Linked DNA regions of Homo sapiens. The protein of the gene in region 2 purifies or fractionates together with the protein of the main gene of each other region. This does not show direct contact. Each region holds a gene or a part of one and is shown on either strand. Other genes may lie near its edges.

Region 1 (8,337 bases), on a different chromosome or scaffold from region 2:
ACACAGAGCCCTGGAGAGGTGGGGAGCTGCTGAAGGGCGGGAGAAGTTGCGGCGTGGCGATAGGTCTGGGTGTTCTGGGAGGACCCCTAAAAGGGAGCAGCTCTGCCAGGTCAGAGCTTGAGGTAGCATGTGTGCCGCTTCCAGGAGGCCAGGATGGAGACAGCAGTTCGAGGAATGCCCTTGGAATGCCCTCCTAGGCCGGAGCGGCTCAATGCCTACGGTAAAGAGTGGTAGTGGGGCGTTGGAAAGAACGGGTGGAGAGGGTTGGGGAAGGCCGGGAGGAGGGCGGGATGGGTACCTGAAGGACGGGGAGGAGGCCGAGGGTCCTGGAGAGGGTGGAACCCTGAATCTATCCGTCCTGGCTTTTGTCTCCGCCTCACTCTGTCCGTGACTCGGCCTCTTCCCATCCCTGTGCATCTGTCTTTGGGTCTCCTGCGCTGGGGACCCGCGGGAGCAGAGCGCGAAGTGATGGTGAACATGCTGAACTCACTGTCGCGGAACCAGCAGCTGCCGCGGATCACGCCCCGATGCGGGTGCGTGGACCCGCTGCCCGGCCGCCTGCCCTTCCATGGTTACGAAAGTGCTTGCTCGGGCCGCCACTACTGTCTGCGCGGGATGGACTACTACGCCAGCGGGGCGCCCTGCACCGACCGCCGCCTGCGGCCTTGGTGCCGGGAGCAACCGACTGTAAGGTTCGCAGGGCTCCGCCCGCCTCAGCCGGGCTCCACCCCACACAAGCCCCGCCCCAGAACCCCGCCCCCTTCCAGCCCGGCCAGCTTCCGTGCAGGCCCCCAGCCTGCTCTAGCCCCGCGCTGCACGCTCTCGAGGCCCTGCCGTGTCCCGCCCTCGGGCTCCAAGGCCTGAACTAACAACTGAGGCGGGAGAACCAGCACGAAGGTTACTCCAAGTCCCCGACCCCTGTCCCTCTCAAACTGGGCTCAAGGTCAACCTGGCCTCTCTATATGCTCTGGAGGTCCCGTCAGAGGGTTTTTGAGGAAGAAACCCCGCACATCAGTCGCATCCTCTTCCCCCATCTCCTTGGCCCTGCCCCCTTTCCTGGACTCCTGGCCCTAGAGACGCAGGTTCTAGCCTGTGGAGTGCCCTGCGTTCTCAGAAAAATGTCCTCTCTTGCTGGTCCCCCGTCACCGTCGGTAGTGGGTGCGGTCATTCCTGGGGGCTACGTGAGCCGGGAAATGGTGACCACTTTACCAGAATGGCTCTGGCCTCCTCGGATCCCGCACCACCTGCGGAGGTAGGCACCCTCGCGTGTTACTGCTAAGAAAACTGAGGCCCGAGCGCACAGCTGGAGCCCAGACTGCAGCTCGGCATTCGTCCTGCACGCGGCGGCAGCCAAGCCTGGGAGAACTTTGTCCGCGGTAGCCCAGAGAGCTGTGCAGTGGGGGTCCATAGTGATCCCCCGCCCCTCTCCAGGCCGAGAGAGCCTGATTCATTGTGCAAGACTGAGTCTTATCCCTCTCAAGGGCATAGGGGAGTGGGAAAGTGTCTGAGCCTCTAGGAAGCTCAGAAATGATGCCTCGTCCTACTGCTGGAGAAATTGCTGTCCAGTGGCGGGGATCCGGTGGTTCCAGGTCCTCAACGCCCGGAGCCCGACCTTCCCCAGGGTCCAGCGCTCTTTCCTCAACGGCAGAAATGAGGCCTTGCCGGGAGGGAGTCTTCCAAGGGGGGTTCCCGAATCGGTGCTGCAGTGGGGGTTTTGAAGGGTGAGGAAGAAGGAGAGGAGGATTTCCGAGCCTTGGGACGGACACCTGAAGCGCCGCCCAGGGGCTTGGTCTAAATCGGGGGATGAGAGTCAAAAGGCCCAACCCCTCCATGCTCGCGGCTTCCTCCTTCTCCAGATGTGTACCTCCCTACGAGCACCGGCCCGGAATGCAGTGTGCTGTTACAACTCCCCCGCCGTCATACTACCCATATCCGAACCTTAGGTAAGTCTAACGCGCACACACTCATTTGCACACGCACCCTGAAGGCTTGGTGAGGCGGGGCTGGGGGAGGATGTCTGGTAGACGGGATGAGAACGCTCCGCGGTGCACTGACAGGCACATACCACGAGGGGGAGCTAGTGGCATGGAGCAGTCAAAGGTGGTAAGGACAGAGGACCTTAAGAGAGGGCTAGGAGGCCGGTATTGAAGGGTTACAGGTTGGCAGTGGGCTTACAGCCAAAGGCGTTGGTTCAGAGCTTGAAGTAATGAGTAAGAAGTCGATGTTAAGGAGGAAATATTGGGTATCAGCAACTTAACAGTAGAACCTAAGGTCAGGAGGTCAGTATTGGAACCCAAGGTCAGTGCTATAGACAAAGTGTAGGGATAAGGTTAGCATTGCAAACTGGAGTCAGATATTCACTTTGACATATGAGGATCCAAAACGGCTGACCCATCTCTTCCTGTAGATGGGACACAAGTCACTTCAAGAAGTCTGGTGGTCCCCAGAGAAACAACTATGTTATCCATCCTGAGTTTGTGTCTGAGACCTATCCCGACTATCGTTGCTGGTAGAGCCTGGGCTTGCTGTGCCAAGGGGGCAGAGCAATAAATAAACTCTTCAACCCCAAAGCCTGCCTCCTGTGTCCTTACCCAGCAGGATCTGGAAGTGAAGGGCCAGTCACTCAGGCCTCTATCAAACCCCTTCAACTGAGATGCAATTTTTCTCAAAGTCACCCTTCCCTGGGCCCTTCCAACCCCATCATCTCAGTACATCCCTGAGTGCCCTCCTGACACAGAACAGTAGCCTTATATCCAGCTGCTATCCTCCTCCCCTGAATCCCAGAGCCCAAACGGATGGGTCCACCCTGCAATGCAGGCAGGAGCCATCTACTTTCCACCCCACGAAGACCCTCCAGCTAACATTTCTTCAGTATGCTCCCAAACTTAGATGCCCTCCCACTCATCAGAGGACCCAGAATCCTTCCTTCCACAGTCAAAGACCTATCCCTACACCCAAAGCTCTTGATCTCTGCTTCCAGGAGTCCCCATCACAGCCTCCCAAAAGCCTCTCTGTGCTCAGACACCCTTGCTGCACAAGGTGTGTCCCCCATTCCAAGTCCAACTGGTCAAAACATAATTTTGGAGGGTCTCATGACAAAGAAATTTCAAGTTGCAAAACAAAGCCCTGTTTCTCTGCCCCTCAGGGAGCGAGAAGGGGCCATTCTAAAATCTCTGTGATCTTCAGTATTTTTATTTCTGCATCAAATAGATATGAAACCAGCTGGGTGCAGAGGCTCACACCTGTAATCTCACCACTTTGGGAGGCAGAGGCAGGAGGATCACTTGAGCCCAGGAATTCGATACCAGCTGGGGCAACATAAAGAGACCCCTTCTCTACAAAAAAATTTAAAAATTAGCAGGGTATGGTGGCACACACATGTGGTCCAAGTTACTCAGGAGCCTGAGGCGGGAGGGGATAGCTTGAACCAAGGACATTGAGGCTGCAGTGAGCTATGTTAACGCCACTGCACTCCAGCCTGGGCGACAGAGCGAGACCCTCTCTCAAAAAAATAAAGACCGGACGCGGTGGCCCACACTTGTAATCCCAGCACTTTGGGAGGCCGAGGCAGGTAGATCACCTGAGGTCAGGAGTTTGAGACCAGCCTGACCAACATGGTGAAACTCTGTCTCTACTAAAAATACAAAATTAGCCAGGCGCGGTGGTGCGTGCCTGTAATCCCAGCTACTTGGGAGGCTGAGGCAGGAGAATTGCTTGAACCCGGGAGGCGGAGTTTGCAGTGAGCTGAGATCGTGCCATTGTACTCCAGCCTGGGCAACAAGAACGAAACTCAAAAATAAATAAATATAAAAATAAAATAAAATAAAAAAGAAATGAAACCTCAGAGTCTTGCCCAGCCCCCGGGGAGAGGGGCATGGCGGGGCACACCCACTTTCCCGCAGCTTGGGCATTTCTAACTAAAGGCTGTAACTTAGGAGGAGGGGCTGGACCCTATAAATAACTAGTCTGGGGGTAGCGGTCTGGGAGGCGGGTGACGTTGCAAAACACCGAGCAGAAACCGGTCTTCTCAGTCCCTGACCTCGGACACCGCTGGTTTGGTCCGGTGGGAACCGACAGCTTGGACTCGCGGCGGGTTGGAACTACAGCTCCCTCCGTGGGGCCCTCGATTGGAAGCACCTGCATTGGGAGCTGAGATACTCGCGGAATTCCGCCACCACTTTTCCGTATGGAAAGCTGAGGGCTTGTGAGAGCGTTATACCGATATGGCCTCCACCTGTCCAAACCGGGAAGGAAGGAATTCCAATGGCCAGCTCTGCTCCTTTACCCTGCAGCTCTCTCCCTCTCATCCTCATTCCAAACCTAGCCTAGAGGTGCAAGAACCCCAACCTTCCGCAGCTGCTCCTTTCTGCAGAACTACATGTCCCAGCAGGCCTGGGGCCGAGCCCCGCCCGCTTGCGGGTTAGCAGTGGCCCAGGAGGGGCGGGCCCGCCGGCGGGAGTCGGAGCCGCGGGGCGCAGGACTGAGCAAGCCTGAAATGCCAGGGGCAGAGCACAGAGCGGTGGGAGGAAGGTGGGGCTGAGGGGCGGGGCCACAGATCCGCCTGATAACCTGGGAGGAGGGGTCGAACGTCAAGGGCAGGGCTGGACTCTGAGGCCCGAGACGAGACTGGATGACTGGGGCGTGGCCGAGGAACCCCAGGGCGGGACCCGAGGAGGGGCTGTGCCCTGCCAGACAGAGCCCCGCGCGGCGCGGCGGCAGCTTCACTCTGGTTCAAGCGCAGGGGATCGGCGGGAAGCTCTTTCACCCCCGCTTCTGCCGGGCTGTAACTGCAATGGGTGAGCCCAGCGGGAGGGCTGTGGGGGGCGGGGGGCTGCTGAAGGAGCACGATTCCTGAACTTTCGCTCCCACCGATGAATGGGTGGAGCGAGCCTGAACACCTGGGCCCATCCCACGGCCGCGATTCCCGCGGGGCGACAGGTCCCTTGACCTCGGTCGGCCCCTTCGGACAGTATAGCCTTCAGGGCGGGGTAGGGAGGGCGGCTGTGGAGTATTCCAGGCTATGTAGGCAGTCACTCGATCCCCGCGGATACCGTCGCCTGGCAGGAGAGGGAGATGGGCCGGATCGAGTTGCCTTTGACATTTCCATCCCCCCGGGAACTGTGTCCAACTAACGATTCTACTTGGAATGGCCTCCCCTCAGTTGAGTCGGGCGGGGCCCTCCCCCTCAGACCAGACTAGCTGTGGCAGCCAAGGCTGAGGTTGAGTGTCCGGTGGGGAGAGGCTCAGCAGGGGCAGAGCCCAGACTCCACCTGGCGGAGGCGGCAGATTACAGAGGTCTCTGGCACCACTGTTAACACCGGAACCACAGACTTCCTCCCCCAAAGCCCCGGTACCAGATGCCATTAAAATTGCCCTCTTTGCTGCCCTCGTGGTCTTCGTGGTCCGCGTGGAGCAAGCAGCAGCACCAGCCCTTGGAAAGACAGGCCTCACCATGCCATGTCCATCTGATGGAAGCTGGTCCCACCAGCTCAGCCCCAGGGCTCCTTTCTGCTACTGCATTCAGGCAGCCAGGTCAGATCATTATCTCCCATCTCCTAAAACTTACACTGTGGAGAGCTGGGCTGGGATTTTAGATCCAGGCAGCCTTGATACCTGGCTAACTTCAGACAAGTTCCTTTTTCTGTTTGGGCCACGTTTCCTCACCTGTAAAATGGACACTGCAGCTATGTCTGCTGTTCCACATTGTTGATAGAACTGGATGCTGTGGTGACATTTGGGACACTATCATGGTGCCTGGGGTGGGTGGGTGCCCAGGCCTGTGGGCTTCTGTCTTTCATCAAAGAACTTCAGATCCCAGAAAATTAAGATTCTCAAAACATAACTGTCGGAAAGGGCTTTTGAATCCACCTTGGTGGCCTCTTCCTGCCTCCAGGGCTCATGAGATAGGCTGACTTCATATGAAAGTTTTGAGGATGAGGAAGTCTCTCTCCTCTTCAGATACTGACCCTCTCTCTCCTTATTTCCTTGGTGCCCAGAATAGGGCTTTGGTTATCTTGAATGAATGAATATAAACTCACAGGTGTGATCTGAGCCACCTAAAGCCTTCTTTGGGTTCTGCTCAGCTTGAGGGCATCACCTAAAGGCCACTGGCTGCATTTTCCAGGAGGTGTTTTCTAAGCTGTATCTATATAGGAATGGGGAGGAAAGCTAAGTCATTGTAGACTGAGAGAAAGGGAATAAGAGTCTGTTCCAGACCAGCTAGGGCTGACAAGCTTAGGCAGCTGGGGGCAGAGGGCACTGAGAATGAGGCCCTGAGCTAGCACCGTGTGGGAAGTGCCTATGGGAGGAGCTGTGTATTGACATTTAGGATCAAATTCTGCTCCACACCTTGCATTCTTGCATGGGGGAGGTGAAAAACCTGAGTATTTCCGGCATCTCCTTGGAAGTCCCTGGGGACTTAGAGACAGACACTGGCATCTGGGAGGAGGCTAATTACTGTTTGCTAGTCTCCTTCTCTTCTTCCCCCGAGCTGGAGCAGTTGGGCAACCAACTGGCTGGCTGTGTGTATGCCCGTGTGTGCACCTGGGTGGTGCTATTTCTTTGTTGGACTCTGCTCTGAAGCCTGGGACAGGAACGGTCAGTGGCCTTGAGTGGCAGAGTAGGACACACCTCTTCCCCTGAGCCTGTGTTTCCCTGTAGTCATATCTGTATTTTTTTTTTTTTTTTGAGATAGGGTCTCACTTTGTCACCTAGGCTGGAGTGCAGTGGCACAATCTTGGCTCACTGCAGCCTTGACCTCCTGGGCTCAAGCGACCCTCCCACCTCAGCCCCCCAAGTAGCTGGGACTACAGGTGCACACCACCATGCCTGGCTAATTTTTTTTTTTTTTTGTATTTTTGGTAGAGACAGGGTTTCAACATGTTGCCCAGGCTGGTCTCAAACTCCTGAGCTCAAGAGATCTGCCCTCCTTGGCCTCCCAAAGTGCTAGGATTACAGGCATGAGCACCGTGCATGGCCTCATATCTGGATATTTAGCATATAGTGTGTCAGAGTTTATGTGTGTTAGTGGTAGTGGTGGGTGTCTGATCCCTGGAGAGCAGGTAGGTGGAGGAGGTGCGCTGGGCCAAGCTAGGTGGGTGAAATCTCCTGAAGCAGGTGGCCTAAAGGATTTAGGTTGGGGAAGGAACGAGCTTGGTAATCACAAGATAGGCTTGGCTGGAAATGGAATCAGAATGGTAGCTGAGAACACATCATGCCTGGAGCCTCCAGTGCAAAGCAAACACTTTTAAATTTCATCATGGAAGCAATGAGCAGCTCTCGAAGCTAGGGATAGATATGGTTTGATAAGTGCTTTAGAAAGATCACTATGGTTGCCGTGATCAGAAGGCACTGGTGAGAAAGAAGTTAGAGTCAGAGAGGCCTGTTGGGGGAAGCGTTTGGTAATACAGGGGAGAAGTGACAGTGCCCAAACTATGACAGAAACAGGACAGTGGGTGAAACAGAGCGAGGAAGTAGCTGGCCCACAGATGTGGTGCCAGGAGCAAAGCAGGAAGGCAGGCATGGAAATGGATTTGGTGATGGATGATGGCTGAGAGCAGGGTGAGTTTGAGGGCAAAGAGAAGCAGATGTGAGAAACAACTGGCCCCCCATGCCAGGCTCCTGCCCCAGGCCCTAATGTCTGAACCCAACTCTACCTCCCTCCAAACCAGGCCCTGGGACTAAGTCTGGCTTTGGGTGTCTTCTTCAATCTCCAGACTTCATCAGGCTTTTGACTCAGGATAAAAACACATCCCTGAGCTGTTCTCCCTTCCTCCCTCCTCTCCCCCTCTGGGGACAGGGAAGCTAGCCTACCGCCCTGTTAAAAGTCTCAAGGGGGACTGGGCGAGGTGGCTCACGCCTGTAATGCCAGCACTTCTGGAGGCTGAGGCAGGTGGATCACTTGAGGTCATGAGTTCGAAGCCAGCCTGACCAACATGGTGAAACCCTGTCTCTACCAAAAATACAAAAATTAGCTAGGTGTGGTGGTGTGCGCCTTTAATCCCAGCTACTCGGGAGGTTGAGGCAGGAGACCCGCTTGAACCCAAGAGGCAGAGATTGCAGTGAGCTGAGATCATGCCACTGCACTCCAGTCTGGGTGACAGAGAGAGACTCCATTTCAAAAAAAAAAGTCTCAAGGAGCTGGCTGGACAATACCCCCTCTCCCACCCTGACCATCCACACCTCTAGGAGAGCAGGACTTTTCTAGTTCCTTTCCCGTCTCTTCAGCCCGAACGGCCCCATGTGTGATCTGGGGAGGCCTGGCTTATCCTGTGATCCTGGAAAGCTTCCTGACCCTCTCAGGGTTTGTTTCTCCACTAGGAAAATGAGGATGGGTGC
Region 2 (2,894 bases):
ATGACCAAATGCTAAAGAGAAAAATAAAACATGAGAGGGAAACAAGGAGCTCTTGGGAGGAGGTGCCAGAGACTCACAACAAGATTACAACACCAGAGTTCACAGTTAGCAAACAGCAGTACTCAACATTCTTACATACTTAAAAATATTCCCCCCAAATCACCCTAAATATAAAAACAAAGTTTTTTAGTAAAAGGCAGCTAATTATTTCTATTTTTTAATCTAAATTCAAAGTGTTCCATCCTACCCTAAATAAACAAGTGAAATCCCAACTGTAGAAATACGTTCTTTTCTTAAATGACTCACTATTCATCAAAACAATACTAATAGGATGGTGGCTATGAACATAGACTGTTGAGTAGAAAGCATGATACTTTTTAATACTCTTTATAGGGACAGGACAAATCCAAGCCATTACCGTGAGGAAAAAGTTCAAAGCATATGCACCCTGAGTTACTGAGAAAAGCAGAGTTGCAAATAGGGTAAATGACAAGATACCATTCCAAAACCACACAGCTTCCCTTTTTATTGATGCTCAAGAAGTGAACTTTAAATGACATTTCATAAGCAAAACACAAATGAAAACACCTAATGTGCATGTATAGTATATGTAAACATACATAGTATATGGACTCAATCATCCTCATCTAAATATAAAGAGAACAACTGGTTCTTTGACCTCAAAAATAAATTCAATGTTGGCATTACTGTTTTTAACTTACAGTGTTTTATATTTAACAGGAAAAATTATGAATAACCAAGTTTGGTGTGGTCATGGATTTCATGTTAAGGTATAAATAGAGTTTTTAAGAAATAATCTGTATAATAAAATAAGTTTACTTTTGAATCGCAGTACAGTCATTTCCTTCAATCAATAAAAATATTCCTTGATTACAAAGCAGCCTTATTTTGCAAATGTATTTCAGGAAAATAGCTCTAGCAATATTTGAAATACCACACTATTTTAAAAAGGCAGCGAAGTGACAGAATTTAGATTTAAAATAGTATATTGCAAAATAGTTCAACATATTATTTCTAAGCACAAGGCAAGCTCCATTCTGAAGGATGCTTTTTAATCTTATAAAGCAAACTGTTCCAATATTTCTGTGGTAAAGTCTAAATATTTACAATAAAAGATGAATCTTTACACAGACAGGACATAAACTTCAATACCTAACCACAATGCAAACATTTTACATTATGACATCACTCTAATGTGAAGCTTAGTTTGTTAACATGTGCTCAAGAAGGAAAATAAAAACAATACAGTTCTGTAGCTTTGTAACAGGCAGAACTCTGCAACAATTAGAGAAATAAAAACAGCAAACAACACCAGTTCTATGAGTAACAAAACAAAAAAAATCCAGATATTATAAACATTTAAGTAAATAACTAATACATCCTTCCTGATATATCTTTATTTGCTCTCTTCTGTTAAATACGTTTTTTAAAATGTTTCTCATATCCCAGGAGGAAAGGACAGTAAATTATTCACAAAGATAAAAGTGCATCATGTTTGAAAAGTGCTTTGTGTTTATGTGTTACAAACATATCCAATAAGGAAGTTAAGTAAGTCTGTGCAAAAAAAATCTAATTATTACTTGAATTCATAAACCTTAATCATGGGTTTTTTGTAGTTCATCCAGATGAAGCAGTCAAGCAGCAGAAGAAAAATCTGAGATTAGACATTTTGTATAGCAGAAAGAGCACTGGGCCACAAGTGAGGAGACCCACAGTCTATTCTTAGCTCAGTTAACCAACCAGTTAGTGACCCCAGGTAAGACGGGCTTCCATTTCAGTATTTGGCAATGGGCAAGAAGCAGAGCTGGAGAGCCTCTAAGGCCCCTTCCAACTCCAAAATTATCATGTATCTTTAGATGAGGCATTTCTGAAAGGGCAAATAATTTTACCAAAATATAAAACTACATACTAGTCATCTAGCTACTACTCACTCATTGGACTTATTAGTAATAAAGCACAGAAAGAAAGAAAAATTCCAAAAATGATTGACAAAAAAAGGTCACGTGAACATTACACATAACCAAAGCTAGAGAAACCCTTCACAATTAGGGCACTAAGAAAAATCCATTATGATGTGCAAAAACAAAACAGAATAAGCAAGAAATGCAACAGCTGGTCACCTGATGGCACTTTTTCTTCCTGAGTCCCAGAATCTTCTTGGAACCTAAAGCTTTAATTGGTACTTATTTTGAAAATTGCTTTAAAAGAACCATGATTCCCCATAGTTCATATTCATGGCTTTGTAAAGAACTCTCTCTGAATTGTTATAATGGTTTTTAAGAAGATAACTATATTTTCAAAATTTTAATATGGCTAAATAAAGTAAACCATTTACCATGGACTCTTTATTTACACCAAATATATATATTTGAGCTTATTTAATATTTTAGAAGCTTAACAATTCTCATCCACAAGTTTTGACCCATTAATTCCCCGATAGGTCACTCTGCTCGGTCGAACTAAGACTCCATGGTTCGGCTTACAGGTGAAATAGCGCTTGTCACCCACTGACCCATCATTTTTTCCCTTGGCGCTTCGGAGCTCAAGTCCAAGCCAGATACCTGAAGCAAAGTCAGTGGGGCCCACATACCTAACAGTACCCATCTCATTGGAGCTCGTGAGCAGGACCTGAGACCCCTCGTGCAGCTTCACGCTCCCTTCAATGCCACCTGCGGTGGGGGTGCTGCTCCAACTGCGACGCAAAGCAGCTTTCGATCTGTGCGGAAGGGAAAAGTGGGAAAAATTATTTAGTGCTGAAGCCACGTAATGCAATGCATCATATTCATTTCCACTGCCAGATTCAGAATTCATTCACTCAGTTCCCAAAAGAGAATACTTTATGGTCACAACTTGATTTTTAAATTTTAAATAGC

Evidence for each region.
Region 1: the proteins of CLIP4 (region 2) and MYORG purify together in Homo sapiens (affinity purification with mass spectrometry; 2 studies listed by BioGRID and IntAct, with this or other methods). This does not show direct contact.

The regions. Positions count from the first base shown.
Region 1 is NC_000009.12:34,373,252-34,381,588, reverse strand, and holds the start of MYORG (myogenesis-regulating glycosidase), read left to right. Parts: upstream 1-4,690; 5' UTR 4,691-4,796; exon of another isoform or gene 4,797-5,532; intron 5,533-8,337. Other genes in the region: SPMIP6 (sperm microtubule inner protein 6), read left to right, coding at 145-220, 458-692, 1,857-1,943, 2,408-2,513.
Region 2 is NC_000002.12:29,181,415-29,184,308, reverse strand, and holds the end of CLIP4 (CAP-Gly domain-containing linker protein 4), read right to left. Parts: exon of another isoform or gene 2,744-2,894; intron 2,738-2,743; coding exon 2,416-2,737; 3' UTR 501-2,415; downstream 1-500.